2 separate regions of the Homo sapiens genome follow, and region 1 is linked to region 2. A link means that fine-mapping ties the variant in region 2 to the expression of a gene that starts in the linked region. Tissue or cell type: whole blood. Region 2 holds a variant in brackets; the other region holds the start of a gene. All regions are shown on one strand. Distances are from middle to middle. Region 1 holds the start of GPR171 (G protein-coupled receptor 171). Region 2 overlaps MED12L (mediator complex subunit 12L).

Evidence for each region. PIP is the estimated chance that this variant, and not a neighbour inherited with it, causes the effect.
Region 1: it holds the start of GPR171, and the variant in region 2 is fine-mapped to the expression of GPR171 in whole blood (TOPMed, PIP above 0.99).

Annotation. Positions count from the first base shown.
Region 1 is chr3:151,199,674-151,209,489 of GRCh38, reverse strand. GPR171 (G protein-coupled receptor 171) reads left to right here and starts at 6,274. Exons shown (of 3, transcript NM_013308.4): 1 at 6,274-6,386; 2 at 8,493-8,581. The region is part of intron 16 of MED12L (mediator complex subunit 12L); the gene reads right to left.
Region 2 is chr3:151,218,061-151,227,876 of GRCh38, reverse strand. All of the region lies in intron 16 of MED12L (mediator complex subunit 12L), which reads right to left. It overlaps P2RY14 (purinergic receptor P2Y14), which reads left to right. Exons shown (of 3, transcript NM_014879.4): 2 at 8,235-8,342. Among named protein-coding and RNA genes, the nearest start is that of GPR171, 20 kb to the right of the region's middle. The variant C/A (reference allele first, on the strand shown) is at 4,239.

The sequences.
Region 1 (9,816 bases), 18 kb after region 2:
GATTACCGTTTCAAGACAAGACATGCCCGTCAAAAAAACCACTTTAACAAAATGTAGTTTTTCTTTCCCACAGGTCACTTTTCAAAATGTTTTAACCACTTTATAGTACTGCTTGTACAAAATGATTAAATGTCGTATTAATTTCTCTGCAGTAAACGTATGTGATAAATATTACATGTGAATCAGCTACAAAAAAACAAACAAGAAAGTGCGCCCCAAAGCAATCTCAAGATTTTTAGGAAATATGAGATGTTACTGCATTCCTATCTCCCCCTGCTTCAATAGAAGTTGGGTGTAAGTAAGAAAGGGGTGTTATAAAAATAGGCCCACCTCAATAAACAGGAAAATATATGACAGGTATTCTCACTGATAAAACTTATAAGACTACTTGTTACTTTTTGAAGGTGTTCATTGTATGATTCTATGGCTTCTCTCATGGTCACCGTCATAGCCACTAGCCACTTCACTCCACTTCCTAAATATTGTATCATGTGTTTTGGGGACCTGCAACACAGGACTTAAGACAAGGGAGTAAATTTGTTCTTTATCAGCCTCCAGGTGTCACCAGCCTTAACTCCCATGGTATCAGCATGGCAAGGGAAGCCCATACCTGCACTACTTCTCCCTTCTCTCCCAAATCCCCCATCATCTGATGACCTGCTAAACCTGCCCCAGAAGTGTGTGGCAAAGGGCTTACTTTCCTATCATTCCATTTCCTGACACAAATGAACACCAAGAAAACATGGCCCTCATCATATCCATACAATATTACATATTACTTAAATTCTTGATTTTTCTGTTTTCTTTTTTTGACATAGAGTCTTGCTCTTGTCCCCCAGGCTGGAGTGCAGTGGCGTGATCTCAGCTCACTGCAACCTCCACCTCCAGGGTTCGATTCTCCTGCCTCAGCCTCCCAAGTAGCTGAGATTACAGGTACCCGCCATCACGCCTGGCTAATTTTTGTATTTTTAGTAAAGATGGGGTTTTACCATGTTTGCCAGGCTGGTCTCGAACTCCCGACCTCCGGTGATCCATCCACCTCGGGCCCCAAAGTGCTGAGATGACAGGCGTGAGCGCCCGGCCTCAATGTTCTATTTTCTAAGCTAAAAGGGTCTCTACATTTAACTTGCAGCTTTTTTCAAGCTGTTAGTTATGTTGTACTTTCAACCATTATCTTTCTAAAGGAATACTAGCTCTCTCTGATATCATATTGACTGCATGAGAACATAATCCTTATAAAAGCCAACTTCAACTCCACATCAAATTCACTTTCTTGTTAAGAAAAACAAGCAACTATAAAAAAATTGGCATGGCCAAGTGTAGTTCATATCTGGCTAACAGTATGAAAGTAGTTAGGTAAAAAATAAGAAAAATGGTCTTATTTTAAATAAGAAAACCAGCATTTCCATCAAGGCCATTCAAAATAAGAGCTCCTTAAGTGTTTGCAAAGTACATTCAGAATGTTCTGGTTAATGACAGATAAAGCTCTGAGAAACATTTAAAACCTAAATGAAAAAGAATAAAATAAAAATCTATCTAAGCTATATCAAATAAAAACTTTGTCAGCCAATAAGGCAAATTCACCTTTCTATCTGACCAAGCTGCCTCTCTCCTCAGACTTCCTTTCCCAGGACTAAAACCTCAGTCTCCTCTGCTCCCTCTCTACCCCACCCTGCAGTGATCTTACTTCTGCAGTGGTTCTCAGCTATTCCTCCCTTCCCATGTAATTTCAGATCCTTATTGCTTCTCACTTAAAATGACTGCAATCTTTCCTTAACTGGCTTCTCACCTTCCACTTTCTCTCCTAACCAAGCAAACTCCAATGTTGGTAGATTCACCTAATACTGCCCAATTGACAGCTCCTTGCCTTGTATAACCATGAGCTCTCCAATGCTTACTTTATTAAAATCCCAGGGAGCATCCAAGATTTGGTCTCAATCTTTTCCTCACAGAGACACCCAAGCCCCCAAATTGCCTGACAGTCCCCCCCAAAATTTCTCATACTCCAATTATCTGTGTCATCCCCCAAGCATGCCACCTTGTAGCTCATTCTGAAGAAGCTCCTATTCACCCCACCACAGTCTGGAGCATTACAATACCCGGATTCCCACAGGTTCTAACAGCACATAGCAGGTGATAAGATTCCTTTTCATTCCTGTACAAAGCATAAAATATTCTCCAGGATAAGAGCTCAGGAGGCAGCCTGTAATTGATAAATATTTGCTGTTATAATTTTTCATAAATACTTGATCAAGAAATATTCACATGGCTGGGTGCAGTGTTGTGCCCCTGTAGTCCTAGTTACTCAGGAGGCTGATGCAACAGGATTGCTTGAGCCAAGGAGTCTGGGACTGCAGCAAGCTATGATTAGACCTCTGAATAACCACTGCACTCCAGCCTGGACAACGTAAGACGACCCTGTCTTAAAAAAAAAAAAAAAAATCACATGGCTAGGAAAAGGGAGATGTTCTCCAAAGAACATTCTCCTGGAAAGTAACTAAAAAGTTTTAAAAATGTGTTCTGTGCTTTGAAAATGTGTTAGTCATGGCCGGGCACGGTGGCTCACATCTGTAATCCCAGCACTGTGGGAGGCCGAGGCAGGTGGATCACGAGGTCAGGAGATCGAAACCATCCTGGCTAACACGGTGAAACCCCATCTCTACTAAAAATACAAAAATTTAGCTGGGCGTGGTGGTGGGTGCCTGTAGTCCCAGCTACTCGGGAGGCTGAGGCAGGAGAACGGCGTGAACCTGGGAGACGGATCTTGCAGTGAGCTGAGATTGCACCACTGCACTCCAGCCTGGGTGACAGAGCAAGACTCTGTCTCAAAAAAAAAAAAAAAAAAAAGATAATGTGTTAGTCATAAGTTCATAAGAAATGGACCATAAACAAACAAATGGGGGAAAAAAAGCATGAAATTCAGTGACTAAAAAGAAACGAGATAATCTTTAAAAGTTCTTTATTATAAATTTCCCCTCCATAAATTATCTTTTAACCATGGACCAAATAGCAGTCACACCTCACAACCAAAAGGTAAAATGAAATGTTGACGCAATAACATCAACAAAAAGGCAGACAACCAAAAGGACTGTCAAGGGGAAATGACAGGGTAATGTACCCAGCCATTCTTTTAACTGAGTTCACATTCCAAGAATGTGAAAAAAACAAATTTGCCTTCAAATCATTTCCAAACATGTATTCTCCATTTCAGTAAAGAAAAAAAAACAAGGCAGAATTTAAATAATACAGAAACAGTAACATGGAAACCATACGTCTACATTTCACTTTAAAACTACACTGCTTAATCACATCAGTCACTCTCAGATTTAAAGCTACCAATCTCAGAGCACAGAAAAAAATCTTTGGGCTAACGCAGGTGGGAAAGAATATTATGTGCAAAAAAAAAAAAAAAAAAAAATTATTTTCTTTCAAAACATAACCCTGAAGCACAACGGCTATAGAGAGAGGGCTGAACTGGAGTTGCACAGGCTGTGGCAGAAGTGACTGATCATAAAAATCTTCCATTTGTAAATTATTTTGATGTAAGAGCGTCCCAAATTCACATTCCAGAGGCTGAAAACTCCATGAGGAAGGCAAGAACAGTGGTACACTGTTCTACCACCCAATGGCATGCAAATTCAAATGGTTACAAATACTAAATGGGAAGGGGGACCGGATTGACCTGATGGCCTCCATTGTAATCACTGTCCCCAGCAATTTCATTGTAAGAAGCATAACTAAGAGCTGGGACGCTAGGGTCTAACTGTGCAGGCTTGAGTGGGCCTTAATTTCTCTGCACCACAGTTTCCCCATCTGTAAGAGGCAGAATCTCCTGTATCTCATGGCTTGTTTTAACAAAAACAAGTCCTCAGACCTGTGCCCGGCTGTGGCAGTGACCACCGACCCCAACATTTGCTTTCCCCTTCCTCATTAGTTCCAAATGGCTTCCATGCTATGCCGAAAAAGCACATTTTAAAAACGCTAAATATTCAAAGCAAGTATTTCTACTGAAATACCGTTGTTTGGTATTTGTGTTCAATAAAATCAAAAGCACGTTTTGTATGGATAGGAGAGTTGACCACAGAAAATATTTTCTTTCTCAATTCATAACTTGGTGGACAATTTAGCTTTAATTTTTATTTTACACATACAAAATATCCATGAAATATTCATAAGTAATGAATAGATTATTTCTTTAACAAAAAGTACTGCCATGACCAAGGTAAGGGAAAAATAACTTCACCTCACTTCTTCCCGCTTGGGTGTGTATTAGTGATGACATGCAACTTCCCGGAACACTAAGTACAGTCACAAACACTTGTCCTCAGTGAAACAGATAGAAAAAAGTGGCTTATAGAAAATCAAATGAAACTAGTATTAAAAAATGAAAACTACATGTATTTCCACTGTGAATAAACTTCCACACAAAGCCAGGTTGCCTAAGCTCATTCTCAGAAGGAGGAATATGATTCATCTATTAAAAGATTAATTCTCACTATTCTAAAAATTAAATAGAACTCTGAGAACAAGGGCACTTCAGTGCTTTCACATTTGGCAATCCAGACACAGAAACTGTGGTCTGGGTAGATTTTTAAGTACAATTGTTTGTACTTTTCAATTGTGTCTACAACCTTAAAGTGAACCGAGGAAGTAAACATATAAAGAGACCTAACTAAAAAAAGCAAAACAGAAACTGTCAAAAATCTTTCATCCCAGTTTTTCTCCATGCCATGGTAAAATCATTCACCACTGTTTGCAGTCAACTCCACTCATCTCTAAATTCTCTCCCTTTCATCTCCTCTACCCTCCAGTGGATGTAAACCCTGATCACTTCTCACTTACTTGTCTGCAAATATATCTTTTCTACAAGTATGTTCTTCAGTGAGTCCTGTACAATGTTGAAGCATACATATCTTAAAAGAAAGATCCTTTCCTAGCACTATGATGATGAAGTTCACAGTGGTTCTTAACATAAAATGTTTGAGAAACATTTGCTTTTTCCCTCCTAGTTTATAATTTATGGTCTTCACTGGCAAAAATAATAATTATATGAATTTGGGAGAATGTCAGAATACCTGAGACGTGACCAATATCATCATAAGCATCTTTACATTTTTTTCAAAAGTCTCCTTAGACTTTCCCTAAATTCTCCCTAGCTAGATACTTCTCATTTCATCTTTTGAGACATTTTTCTTTTTAAAAACTAATACCAAGAGATTAATTTTAGATCCTGGAAAGGTATCTTCTTTTTTCTTATCCAGAAAACTGACCAAGTATTATTAAAAGAAACCAAAGCACCTACCAAGCCAATGAAGCATTAGAAGAAACCAGACCCTAAATAACCAGGCAATGGCTTTGCATTAACACATCAACTTTGAACCAGAAAATTCAGAACTCTTGAAAATATGTTTGTTAGGTCCCCCAGCATGCTAGGCTTCTTTCAAACATTCAGTTAGTTCTGCCACAGACACAATGAACATTTAACCAAACAACTTAAATACACACTGTAGGGTTCCTTTACACACAATCTATTAATTACTAAATACTATTCCAATTCATCAGGCTGTTTGAGTCAAACAGACAAATACTTATTACAAGTCTAATCTCATAAATTGAATATATAATATATTCTTCAATGAAAAATTATAAACTATAAAATAGTATGAATAACATCTAAGTGGAAATACATAAGCATAGAAAAAATTTAAAACTTATGTACCAAAAATATTAACAGTAATTATCTCTCTGCATAATGATGTTCCTTTTTTATTTCTATTTCCAGATTTTTCTATAATGAACATAAAATAAGATAAATAAAATGTATACATTAGCTGACTCTGTAAAACACATCTTTTTGTTTACTTCTTTTTTTAATAATAGGTGTCTCAGCAGGAATAAAAACTGCAACTATTTTTTAAATTTTAACTTTGAAATGCTGTGTTACTATATATACTGAAAAAATATTTGCTTAAACACCTTATATCTTTAATTATTAATCCCCATCAAGGCATGAAGAGTGATATTCTTTGAAATCATTATGACACAAAACATACCTTGGATACTTTAAAAAAAAAAAAAGGCTAGGTACTAAATGAAGATCTTTTCTCTAAAAAATATGACAAATAAATTGCTTAAGAAAGCATACATGAAATTGTATACATTAAAAAAACTTCTTTAGGAGACTTTCATAAAGTTAAACTACTTGCAAACCACAGTTTCATCTACGTCAATATGCAACATTTTAAAACCACACAAAAAGGAAAGGAAATTTTTAGTAAAGCCAGCAGCCTGCAATGGGGTTGCTACTGCTGCGGCTAACCAAACAGCTCATGCTTCTCTGAAGACTTGCAGCAAGGCTTGCTGAGGCTCACAGAAGATAGCCCCAGGTATGTCTTTTTAAACACTTAATATATTCAAATGCTTTTCCGTGGAAAACAAAATTGTGATTTTTCAGTATTTAAGGCTTATAAGTAGAAAAAGCCAAGCTGTATAAAAAAAAAGCATCAATTTTTAAACTCTAAATAGGTCCTAGCTGTGAATGACACTATAATTTTCTTATATCTGATGAACCCATTCATCTGTCTCCAAAAGACAGGATAATTGACACCAGACTGAATACCTGAGCGAGCATAACTATTCAGTAACTCAATCTTATAACTGGGTGGATAGAGGCCATGTTGTAGATCTTCACAACAGGGAACAACAGGCCTTAAGATGACTTTCCTCTACAAACATTACAATAGGTGATTTCAAGAAGATTCCACTGTGATTCCCATAGAAAATCTAATAAGCTTTTATTTTGTTTTTGTTTTGTTTTGTTTTTGAGGAGTCTCGCTTTTTCACCCAGGCTGGAGTGCAGTGGTGCGATCTCAGCTCACTTCAACCTCCACATCCCGGGTTCAAACAATTCTCCTGCCTCAGCCTCCCGAGTAGCTGGGATTACAGGTGCCCGCCACCGCGTTGGCTAATTTTTGTATTTTTAGTAGAGACAGGATTTCACCATGTTGGCCAGGCTGGTCTCGAACTCTTGACCTCAAGTGATCCACCCGCCTCAGCCTCCCAAAGTGCTGGGATTACAGGCGTGAGCCACTGTGCCCAGCCAGTTTATTTATTTTCTAAGCAATGGGCACTCTATCCAAACTACAGAGACAGTTAAAATCTTGTATTGTTGTTGCTGCACTACTTCTGAGTATCTCACATTTTCACTGGTAAGTAACTGTCTGGTAAAATATTTATTAAGCACTTAGTTCTCAAACTTGTGACACAGAACACAGGATGTTATTATACAATATTTTAACCTCTAATTTACATAAGCAAAAATTTTAAATAAACAGATTTGTTTCTCACTGCAATTTAGACAAAAGTTCACAAACACAAATGTGAGAAATGTGAGATGCTCCATGATTCTTGAGAATTACTGAATGATTATTCATTTCAGATAAATTATTCATGTACGGTATATATCGTCAGTTCTAGCTACAGAGAAAATTAATCAAAATAAATTACTCTAATTCTTCTCTTTACCATATACGTCTCATTGATACAACAGACTTATTTTATAGTTGTGCAAGCAATGGAGCACTTAAAGAAACACATTATGTTACCATTATTATGTAATATTTGAAATAGAAGTGCGTAAGCCAAAATCCTAGGGCCTTAGAAAGTAACAATAAGCAAAGATGTGACACTATATCAATGCACACGAATACTAGTTTTTCACATAAAGAAGAAAAGTATGTTCAAAATTCCAAGGTACAAATGGTAACTATCCAAATTCATGGTCGCCAAGGACATCGGTAAAGCCTGGAGTAGCTTTCAGATGTGAGGAGCTTCCTTAAAGCTCTGGAATAAGCAGGATTCAGGAATAGTAAGGATAAATGCAGAGCGCTTAGAAGATGACCAATAAGAACAGATCTTAGTCCTGCCTGAACATGCTGTGAAAGCTTGAGGAACACACCAGTGCCAGCCCTCAATCTCCTCAACTGACTTGGGGATTAGACTACAGGCTATCGATAAAGTTTCCATCCATCCTTAAAATCCTATGACTCCAAAATTTCTATCACATGCAAAAGTATAAAGGCAGGAAGGAACTGTACACAGAATAATAGAGACCCCACCAATCCCAATCTTAATCTGGGATGTAAGTAGAGATGGTAGAGAGAAACTAGGTTATGGAAGCTTTGAGAGCAAAGTTGGTTTAAACTTATTGGATGGGCCTAGGTTTTGTTTTTAAATGTGCGTGTGAGAGAGAGAGAGAGAGAGAGAGTGTGTGCACGTGGTTGTATGCATAGAACAGCAAAATATACGAAAAGCCTAAACTTATATTCTTAGTATTTTGGTAAAAAGTTAAAAATAGTTTATTTCAGCTTTATTACATAAAAATTGTTTAGAACATAGTTCCTGCCCACACAGTAAGCCCTTAGTAAAGACTGGCAGATATAATAATAATCATTATCATTTCTATCATCATCTTACTATTGTTACTGAGGCAGTGTTTTGGAGTGGTTTTGAATGTGATTCTGAGATCAGACTGACTGAGCTGGAATCCTGGCTTTATATCTTACCAGCTACACAACCTTGGGTAAGTAACCCCATTATGCCTCAATTTCCTCATCTGTAAAGCAGGGACAATAACAACACCTAGCTTATGGAAATGATAAGAAGTTAAATAAGTACATGTAAAGTATTTGGCATAGTGCCAGATACAAACCAACTGCTTAATTATTTTCATCGAGTTTGGTAAAGAATGACATTATTCATGGACTCTAACGTGCTAACTCAGGTAGGGAAAGAGAAAGGGCATGTAGCCTTTAAGCAGCACTTGAATTTAGAAAGCTTTGTGTACATCTGCCTTATTCATCTGTTTGCATACATTGTTTCATTACAAATGCACACAAAGGATCATTAATTAATTGGGGAAATTAAAATTTAGAAAGATGTCAGAAGTTTTATTCTCTTATTAAAAGGCACTTACAGAGTAGCTGATCTGGCCTTCAATGTTGGTCACTATAACTTATATTTGCTTCTTTTAAAAAGGTTGTATTATAATATAAAATGTTTCCTTGCTAAAATACAAAAATAATCTTCAGGTCTTTAAAACAAAAGAACACTGTTTAATGTGCAAAAGGGGGACCCACACCAACAGGCAGCACCAGAAAGATTACTAATGTACCCTTAGCTCTAAGCATGTGAGTTTGAATAGACCAGGTCAAAGGGAGCCCTATCAGTTTAACTTGAGCTTACAAACCCGCTCAATGTTCCAGATTTGGGAGGGACATGACAAGACTTCATTGTCATTATCAGTGGTGATCACAGTAGTTCTAAGGGTATGTCTTATGCTTCTGGGCTTTTAACTGCTTCAAAACCCACAATGAAAGAAAAAAAAAGCGACTCAAGTGTTGAAGTCAGATGTTTTGATACTAATATAAATAAATCTTTCTCCAAGGATTTTGTAACCAATGAACATACATCCATGTTCTGGTAGTTGTGGGTTTTTTTGTTTGTTTTTTTGGTTTTTTTCTGTTTGTTTTTGAGACAGACTCTTGCGACCAGGCTGGAGATTTTCCATCAACTCCTTACTTCCCCTGTCAGCCTGGGTTCTCCCAGCCTTAGGAGCCACATGAATCTATGGAAAACAAAAAACTAAAACAAGAAAAAAACCAGAAGGCCTCATTGAAAGCTCTTCATGCTCAACCACAACCCTAGTTTCCTCTCTCTACTTCTCAGAATCTCGGTTCACTTATCTCCTCTGCAAACTAACTTCCAACCCAACTGGTAACAAGAACTACCAGAATGGAAAAACCTGAGGTTGAAAAT
Region 2 (9,816 bases):
CCCAACAATACACAAGACAGCCTACCCACAAAGAACTGAAACCGAAAAAAACAGTTAACAGTACCAAGGCTGAGAAACCCTGGACTATTCCAATCATTATAGGCAAAAAATTACAGGTCCATCCTGACTACCAAGATGCAGTCCCTAGAGTAAAGGCTAACAGTGGGTGGCCATTTTCCTGGCCCCCAGTTTGCCATTCGGGAAGACTGCATGACTATGTATCCATTGGAGGTCATGAGGTGCCTATGCCACACCTCACCCTCCACTGACAGCTCCCATGATCCATTTGCATAATCACAAAGTGAAGACAGGCTGGAGTTCTTAGACATGCCAATATGCTAGACTTGCAGTCTGCCACAAGCTATGCCAAAAGTGTTTTGAGGGAAGCGATTAGAATACAAAGTAAAGACTATGTTTGGACGTTATCAGTTTATAAATCCAACCTAATCCGTCCCCCCTTACCATTCTCACACATAATCAAGAGTTGGATCTGTTTGTAGCAGAAATTCAGATTTCTTTTATCTTTATGGGTTGTAAAGACTGTGAATACGAAGATCAAGAGGGAATCAAGAGAGGGCCGAATTTATGCTTTGGTGGAGGAGGAAGTTCTTGGGTATCTGCAATTCAGCCTAAGAAGAATATTTAGATATTTCTAATGTGAAAACTTAGCACAGCTCCTCAATGAAAGTATGTGGCCACACCATTCAGCCAATTTTAAGTTACATTAACACATGTTGGTCACTGACCTGGATTCTAACTGAAGGTAAAGTCGATGGGTCACAGCAGCAGGAGTTAGGATCAAGTGACCTGATCTTGAGCTCACATCTCCTGCCAGAGAAAACTGGCTGAAGGTGACAAACAGCAGCAAGCAGAGCTCTCCTTGTGCCAGGGGCCCCAGGGGATCTGCGTGTGGCATCCAAACCACATGCAGCAGATCTGGGTTTCTCCCTGCAGAAGAGTTTCCACCATTTATAGGTTAACGTTACCTGTTGTAATCACCATTCATGATAGTCCGACTCTGTATCTCTCTTTGGATATCAACGCAGGAGATAGAAAACTGAGTCAAAAAATCAGAAACTCATTTTAAATACTTTTAGAAACTGGCAAATCAAAAGGAGGTTCTCTATGCCGCAGTATCTGGAAGATAACTGAAGAAACTGAAGGCATCCACCTCATGCAAAACCTTAAAACTCAGATCAAAAACAAAAATAATATATATACTCTCAAACATACACACATGCACATTCCTTTCTTGAAAAAAAAACACTGGCTGACTTCTCAAGATGCGACTCCAGCAAAATGTTGAAGGGCCTGTGTAAAGGATCACATTCATATAAAACATGCTGCCCCCACATTCTTTCAGGAGCAGGGGAGCCCTGGCTTGGAATCAATCAGACATTAGTTTGAATACTGTCTGGCTATGTGTTAGGTGCCCTTTGATGAATCACTTAACCATTTTAAGCATCACTGTCCTCATTTGTAACGTAAACGTTTACTCATTGGCAAGATTCCATCATGTTACCCAAGAGCTTAGGCCATCCATTTTCCCCCACTGTGACAGCCTCTCGTGTCAGTCTTGATGCCTGTTCCTATAGCTCTCTCACCCCAAAACTCCTTCCTTCTTCTTTGCCTAGCTAAAGCCAACTCATTTGTCAATCTTCACTATCACATGCTCCAGGAAGGCTGCCCTGATGCCACCATTTCTGAAACTAGATACGTGCTCACTGTGTTCCTGTGCTTCCTCCTTCAATGATGACCCCATGTCATACCTTGAAGTGTCCCTCTGTTCAGCCTCCCCCTAGACTGGAATCTTCCTGAGAGTTCCCTGATGTGTTTCCATAGGGCATGGCAGCATGTTCTGACGGCTTTATAGTGAGCAAATGAACAAAAGGCCTTGGCAAAGGAAGAAATATCAGGGGTACACAGGAGCCAAAGGTTACAATGTACTTTATAAACAGCAGATTTCAACAAGGGGAAATCAATGATATCAAAAACTGCAAGCAAAGAGGTCAGGAAATAGAATAACTGAGAAAAAGACAACAGACTTAGAAATTAGGTCCCTGACAGCTTCTGAGAAGTGTGGTGAGTGTCAAACATCAAATGCTGTGGGTAATGAAAAAAGATAGGGGGTGGGAGAGTTCCTTCTTCTGGGTGAAGGAGAAAGTGAGATTCTCCTTGACTGAGCCTAGACAGGGCACGGACAAGAGTGCCACAGGAATGCAGAACACGGATGAGACAGCTACCGATAGGATCTGACAGAAAGCTGCTACGGTTTGAGTGTCCGTTTCAAAATTCATTTGAAATTGATTTGCCATTGTGACGGCATTAAGAGGTGGTACCTTTGAGAGATGATTAGATCATGATAGCAAAGGCCTCGTGAGCAAATTAATGGTATTACTGCAGAAGTTGGCCCTCTTTTTCTCTTGGTCTCACATGCTCACTTGCCCTTCCACCATGATGCAGCAGGAAGGCCTCACCAGATGCATCCCCTCCATCTTGAGCTTCAGAGAATCCAGAACCATGAGCCAAATTAATTTCCTTTCTTTATAAATGACTCAATACGTAGTATTGTTATAGCAGCAGACAATAGACTAACACAGGAGCTAAGCAGAAGAAGGATTTCTGAGAAATAAGGGGAGTGTAGCCAATTACAGAGAGAGAACAGCAACTTCTGTGAAGTCGAGGGCACCCTGGACAGGTCTATGACTTAGAAACATAGGACATTGTTTACCCAGCCCTAAGGAGTCACAGTGCTGGGGCAGAAAGGCAAGCCCAATAGGCAGGGTGAAAGAAGTTCTAAAATATCCAGCTCTGCTTGGGTAAGAAAAGCTAGGAGGCTGATGACAGAGAGAATTAAATAACACTAGTAAATAATATAAAATATTTTAAAGATGTAAAACGCTGTAAGTTATTTTAGTAACATAAAATGTAATAAGCATGTTCTGATGGCTTTAGTGAGCAAATGAACAAACGGCCTTGGCAAAGGAAGAAATATCAGGGGTACACAGGAGGCAAAGGTTACACTATATAAACAGCAGATTTCAATAAGGGGAAATCAATGATATCAAATGCTGCAAAGAGGGTCAGGAAATAGGATAACTGAGAAAAAGACAACAGGCTTAGAAATTAGGTCCCTGACAGCTTCTGAGAAGTGTGGTGAGTGTCAAACTTTAAATGCTCTGGGTGATGACAAAAGATAGGGGGTGGGAGGAGGATTCCTTCTTCTGGGTGAAGAAGAAAGTGAGATTCTCCTTGACTGAGCCTAGAGAGGGCACGGACAAGAGTGCCACAGGAATGCAGAACACAGATGAGACAGTTATTTGTAAATTATTTTAGTAACATAAAATGTAATAACACAACTATAAATACACGACACATAAATACTATGAAAACCGCATAGGCGATCACATTGACACCAAAAAAAAAAAAAGTGTTAAACATTAAGGCATGAGAGATTAAAGCAGCAAGAAAATGGCTTCAGTAAGTTTAAAAATGTATAAATGATTACATACATCTATACTATTTTCTATTGATACAGAATCAGCTAGAAAACAAGTATTTATCTCATAGAAAAAGATCCAGAGCACTGTGTATTAAAGCTTTTGATGTCTGGACTGAAAGGAAGGAAAAAAAATATATAAAAGTTGTACCTTTATAAGAACTGAAAAAAGAAGAGGAAGAAAAATGCACGTCATAAGTGGGTACTGATAAAAGCATTATTTGAAGGCAATCCATTCTCCATAGATATTTCTATTCCTAATTATGAAATAATTTAAATATACAAAAACAGAAGTGCAGACACTAATGTTGATAACACCAATGTACCAGTCACCAGTGTTAATAGGCAGTAATATTAGGCATATTTGATTCAGAATTTAAGAAATAAAATATCACAGATACAGCAAAGTCCAACCACCCTACCACTTATAAGCTCCCACTTGTAAGTTAAAACACGAGGTATTTGGTTGGGTGTAAGGAGGCTGGACTTGCTCCTACTTCCCTCCCCAGGAGTAGGCAATGTTCTTTTCTTTTTTTCTTTTAGGTTCAACAGTTACATGTGCAAGTTTGTTACTTGGGTATATTGTGTGACACTGAGCTTTTGGGCTTCTAGTGAACCCATCACCCAAATAGTGAACACAAAACCCAAGAGTAAGTTTTTCCACCATTTCCCCGCTTCCTACCTCCCCGTCTTTGGAGTCTCCAGTGTCTACTGTTCCCATCTTTGTGTCCATGTGTAT[C/A]CAATGTTTAGTTCCCACTTATAAGTGAAAATATGTGGTATTTGGTTTTCTGTTTCTGTGTTAATTCACTTAGGATAATGGCCTCTAGCTACAACCATGTTGCTGCAAAGGACATGATTTCTTTTGTATGGCTGCATAGTATTCCACAGTGTATATGTACCATATTTTCTTCATCCAATCCATCATTGATAGGCACCTAGGCTGATTCTATGCCTTTGCTATTGTGAATAGTACTACAATAAACATGTGAATGAAGGTGTCTTTTTGGTAAAACAATTTGTTTTTCTTTGAGTATATACCTAGTAATGGGATTGCTGGGTGAAATGGTAATTTTATGTTTAGTTCTTTGAGAAATCTCTACACTGCTTTCAATAGGGACTGAACTAATTTACAATCCCACAAGAGTACATAAGTGTTCTCTTTTTTCTGCAATCTCACTGACATCTAGTTTTTTTTTTTTTTTGGACTTTTTAATAAAAGCCTCAATGTTGTAAAGTTAGAATATATGATTTACAACCAGCACATGTTCCATACTGCCCTAGGCCACTGAGATTATTACTCCATGCAGAACTTAACCTCTTTCTTTCCAAAGAGAATCTCATGACTTTTTAGGAACATTCTAAGTAAATATAAGATGATCACAATCGCCACCTCTCAAATAGGTATAAAATACCAATTTACATTTCCAAGAGACCATAAAGATGGGAAGATTATGATGAAATGTAATGAATAAACTTGGGCAAAGATCCTAGATTTCAGGCCTACTTGGAATATAATTTTTCTTGTCTAAAGTCCCGACTACAACAAAAATATTTTACCATCATCACCTTTATTAAATGTCTCCTGGGCACAGGATCTGGGGGAAAAAAATGATGCTAACTCAAAGAGTGGTACATGGACCAGCAGCATATCATGCTTTATTAGTCCATTTTCACACTGCTGATAAAGACATATTTGAGAATGGGCAATTTACAAAAGAAAGAGGTTTACTGGACTTATAGTTTCACATGGCTGAGGAGGCTTCACAATCATGGTGGAGCACATCTCACATGGTGGCAGACAAGAGAAGAGAGCTTGTGCAGGGCAACTCCCATTTTTAAAACCATCAGATCTCATGAGACCCATCCACTATCACAAGAACAGCACAGAAAGATCTACTCCCATAATTCAATCATCTACCACCAGGTCCCTCCCACAACACATGGAAATTAAGGGAGCCACAAGATGAGATTTGGGTGGGGACACAGAGCCAAACCATATCATTCCACCTCTGACCGCTCCCAAATCTCATATCTTCACATTTCAAAACCAATCATGTCTTCCAACAGTCCCCCAAGTCTCAATTCATTTCAGCATTAACTCAGAAGTCCACAGTCCAGAGTCTCATCCCAGACAAGGCAAGTCCCTTCCGCCTATGAGCCTGTAAAATCTAAAGCAAGTTAGTTACTTCCTAGATACAATGCAGTACAGGCATTGGGTAAATGCAGTCATTCCAAATGGGAGGAACTGGCTGAAACAAAGGGGCTACAGGCCCCATCCAAGTCCAAAATCCAGCAGGACAGTCAAATCGTAAACTTCCCAAACGATCTCCTTTGACTCCATGTCTCACACCCAGGTCACGCAATGCAAGAGGTGGGTTCCCATGGTCTTGGGCAGCTCCACCCCTGTGGCTTTGCAGGGTACAGCCTCCCTCCTGGCATTGAGTATCTGCAACTTTTCCAGACCAGCGGTGCAAGCTGTCAGGGGATCTACTATTCTGGAGTGTGGAGGATGTTGGCCCTCCTCTCACAGCTCCATTAGATGGTGCCCCAGTAGGCACTCTGTGTGGGGGCTCCAATCCCACATTTCCCTTCTATACTGCCCTAGCAGAGGTTCTCCATGAGAGCCCTGCCCCTGCAGCAAACTTCTGCCTGGACATCCAGGCATTTCCACACATATTCTGAAATCTAGGCGGAGGTTCCCAAACCCCAATTCTTGACTTCTGTGCACTCGCAGGCTCCACACCAGGTGGAAGCTGCCAAGGCTTGAGGCTTGCACCCTCTGAAGCCATGACCTGAGCTCTACAAGGGCCCCTTTCAGCCACACTAGAGTGGCTGGGATGCAGGGCACCAATTCCCCAGGCTGCACACAGCACAGAGACCCTGGGCTGGGCCCACGAAACCACTTTTTCCTTCTAGGCCTCCAGGCCTGCGATGTGATGGGCTTGCAGTAAAGACCTTTGACATGCCCTGGATACATTTTCCCCATTTTCTTGGTGATTAACATTCAGCTCTTTGTTGCTTATGCAAACTTCTGCAGCCGGCTTGAACTTCTCGTCAGAAGATGGGATTTTCTTTTCTATTGCATTGTCAGGCTGCAAATTTTCTGAACTTTTAAGCTCTGCTTCCCTTATAAAACTGAATGCTTTTAACAGCACCCAAGTCACCTCTTTAATGCTTTGCTGCTTAGAAATTTCTTCAGCTAGATACCCTAAATCATCTCCCTCAAGTTCAAAGTTCCACGAATCTCTAGGGTAGGGGCAAAATGCCTCCAGTCTCTTTGCTAAAACATAACAAGAATCACTTTTGCTCCATTTCCCAACAAGTTCCTCATTTCCATCTGAGACCACCTCACCCTGGACTTTATCGTCCATATCACTATCAGCATTTTGGGCAAAGGCATTCAACAAGTCTCTAGGAAGTTCCAAACTTACCTACATTTTCCTGTCTTCTTCTGAGCCCTCCAAACTGTTCCAATCTCTGCCTGTTGCCCAGTTCCAAAGTTGCTTCCACATTTTCAGATACCTTTTCAGCAATGTGCCACTCTACTGGCACCAATTTACTGTATTAGTCCGTTTTCACACTGCTGATAAAAATGTACCAGAAACAGGACAGTTTACAAAAGAAAGAGGTTTACTGGACTTACAGTTCCACATGGTGGGAGGCCTCACAATCATGGCAGAAGGTGACAGGCATGTCTCACATGGCAGCAGACAAGAGAAGAGAGCTTGTGCAGGGCAACTCTCGTTTTTAAAACCATCAGATCTCATGAGACCCATTCACTATCACAAGAACAGCACAGAAAGACCCACCCCCATAATTCAATCATCTCCCACTGGCTCCCTTCCACAACATGTGGGTATTACGGGAGCTACAAGATGAGATTTTGGTGGGGACACAGAGCCAAACCATATCACGTGCCAAACTCCAGACATAATGGAATCTCAGTCCTCATTTTAGCAAGATCCCAGGTAATGTGTATGCACATTAAAGTTTAGGGAGCACTCACTGGTTTAAAGAATTCAGAAATATGAAAACCTAGACTAAGGCAGAACCAAATCCAACCACCATTTTGCTAAACCTATCCTCTTCCTATCAGACCACATGGCTTTCAGGTGTTATCTCTGCAAAGTCCACACATTAGTCTCATTACACTGGTGGTAATCAAATGAGGGCAATTTTGTCCCTCAGAGGACATTTGGCAAAGTCTAGAAACATTTTTGATTACCGCAACTTGGGTAGTGGGTTACTGGCATCTAGTAGGCAGAAGTCAGAACTGCTGCTAAACATCTTACAATGCATAGGACAGCTCCCAAAAATAAATAATTATCTGGCCCAAAAGGTCAATAAGACAAAGGTTTTTAAAAAACAAAACAATTAAAAAAATCCACCTGCAATTAGACTTATGATTTCATGGCTAAGATGAATTGTTATATTCAGTCATTTGATAAATTGATTCGATCATCCATATCCAAGGGGGGGGGGGGGGTAATATAAACCAATAACCAAAACCACTTCATGCCCAAGCTCTCAGAGTTTAAGTTTCCCACAAGAGGCTGCAACCAAATCAATAATCAATAATGACAACAAATAGCAAGTATAGTGAAACAACAAATGCACATGTTGAAATATTTCACAATTACACAAGCTGAATTTAAGAAGTAAGTACAGACATATTTTCCCAATAAAAAGTCAGGTGCTCACTTAAATCTTTGGTTTTTTGTTTTGTGTAATGCAGGATCTTTAATGAAAAAACACTTGGGCCACTTCAAGACGACAAACGCTCACTGGGCAAAACACCTTCACTGAAAAGAGACCTCATATTATGCAAAAAAAATCTTAAAAGGTAATTTTTTAAATCCCTCAAGTATTATCAAGAGCTTTGTTAATTTCATCGAAGTGCTATGAAGAAAAAATTCTTTTCTTCACAGAAGGAATTACAGCTCACAATTAGGAAGGTGGAAGGTGTTCTAATACAAGAGGAAAATAGGTCATGGTATATAATTACACAGATGAGTAATGAACTCAGAGCTGACTAAGCCTGCTTTTATTAAGATGAACGTATTTCTGGAGTGAGCAATGCTTTGCACAGCCTTGTATCAATTAAATTCTGTCCAAAGAGAGAACCCTGAGGTTATCTGTAATACATGACAACTTGAAAACACTTCATGCAGCACAATCCTAAGATATTACACTGCACTAAGGGACAAGTGCACTCACTATCTAAATCAGATTGAATCTTTGGCATTGACATTCTTTCTACACAATGCTCCCACTACACTTTAATAACTGTCTTTGGGCCTCATAAATCTCATTCTGCCATGTTCTTTAATTATGTTACCAAAGTCTCCAAAGTGACAGTAGACAATGTAGGCTAAAACATTTCAGACCACTTCATTCTCATATATCTGGATTTGTGAAACAAGGCAAAATTTCACTGAAGAAAATTTCAAGACTTACACTATTACAGTATACCCCCCCTCTTTTTTTTTTTTTTTTTTTTTTTTTTTTTTTGAGACTGAGTCTTGCTCTGTCACCCAGGCTGGAGTGCAATGGTGGGATCTCGGCTCACTGCAACCTCCGCCTCCCAGGTTCAAGCAATTCTCCTGCCTCAGCCTCCCAAGTAACTAGGATTACAGGTGTATGCCACCACACCTGGCTAATTTTTTTATTTTTAGTAGAGGCAGGGTTTCATCATGTTGGCCAGGCTGGTCTCAATCTCCTGACCTCGTGATCCACCCACCTCGGCCTCCCAAAGTGCTGGGATTACAGGCTTGAGCCACCGTGCCCGGCCACAGTATTCCTTTTTAAAAAGTTTAGCTATATATATGAATCTTTCTTAAATGTGATCTCTAGAATTTAGGAAGCATTGTTTATATTCCTAAAGCCTCAAGGTTAACATAATGACAACTTTCACAGCAGAAATTCAGTGATAATACCAGAAGTAACTATCAATGAGCAGGGCTCCACAAACAGACACCTACACAAACTGGCTCACCAGACTGCCTGCTTATCCAGTAATCCAGTTAATCATCATCCAGAAGTCCTGTTCATCTTTTAATTTTTTTCTGTTGCCTATCTCTCCTCTTTAATGGACTGGCATGAGCTGGTAAGAAACAGTGAATCAACTGAGAAGTGGGCAGGGAAGGGAGGGTTGCTGAGCACACTAAAAGCTTCTTTTCTGATTCTTTTGGTTCTTATTTATTTTTACATTTTTGTATAAAATCAGCATGAGAATAAAACGATTTCCTTCATTTGTGAAAGATTTGAAGTTTCTGTAGGTCCCTGTATGAGGACATTAAATCATCTCAATCTGTACT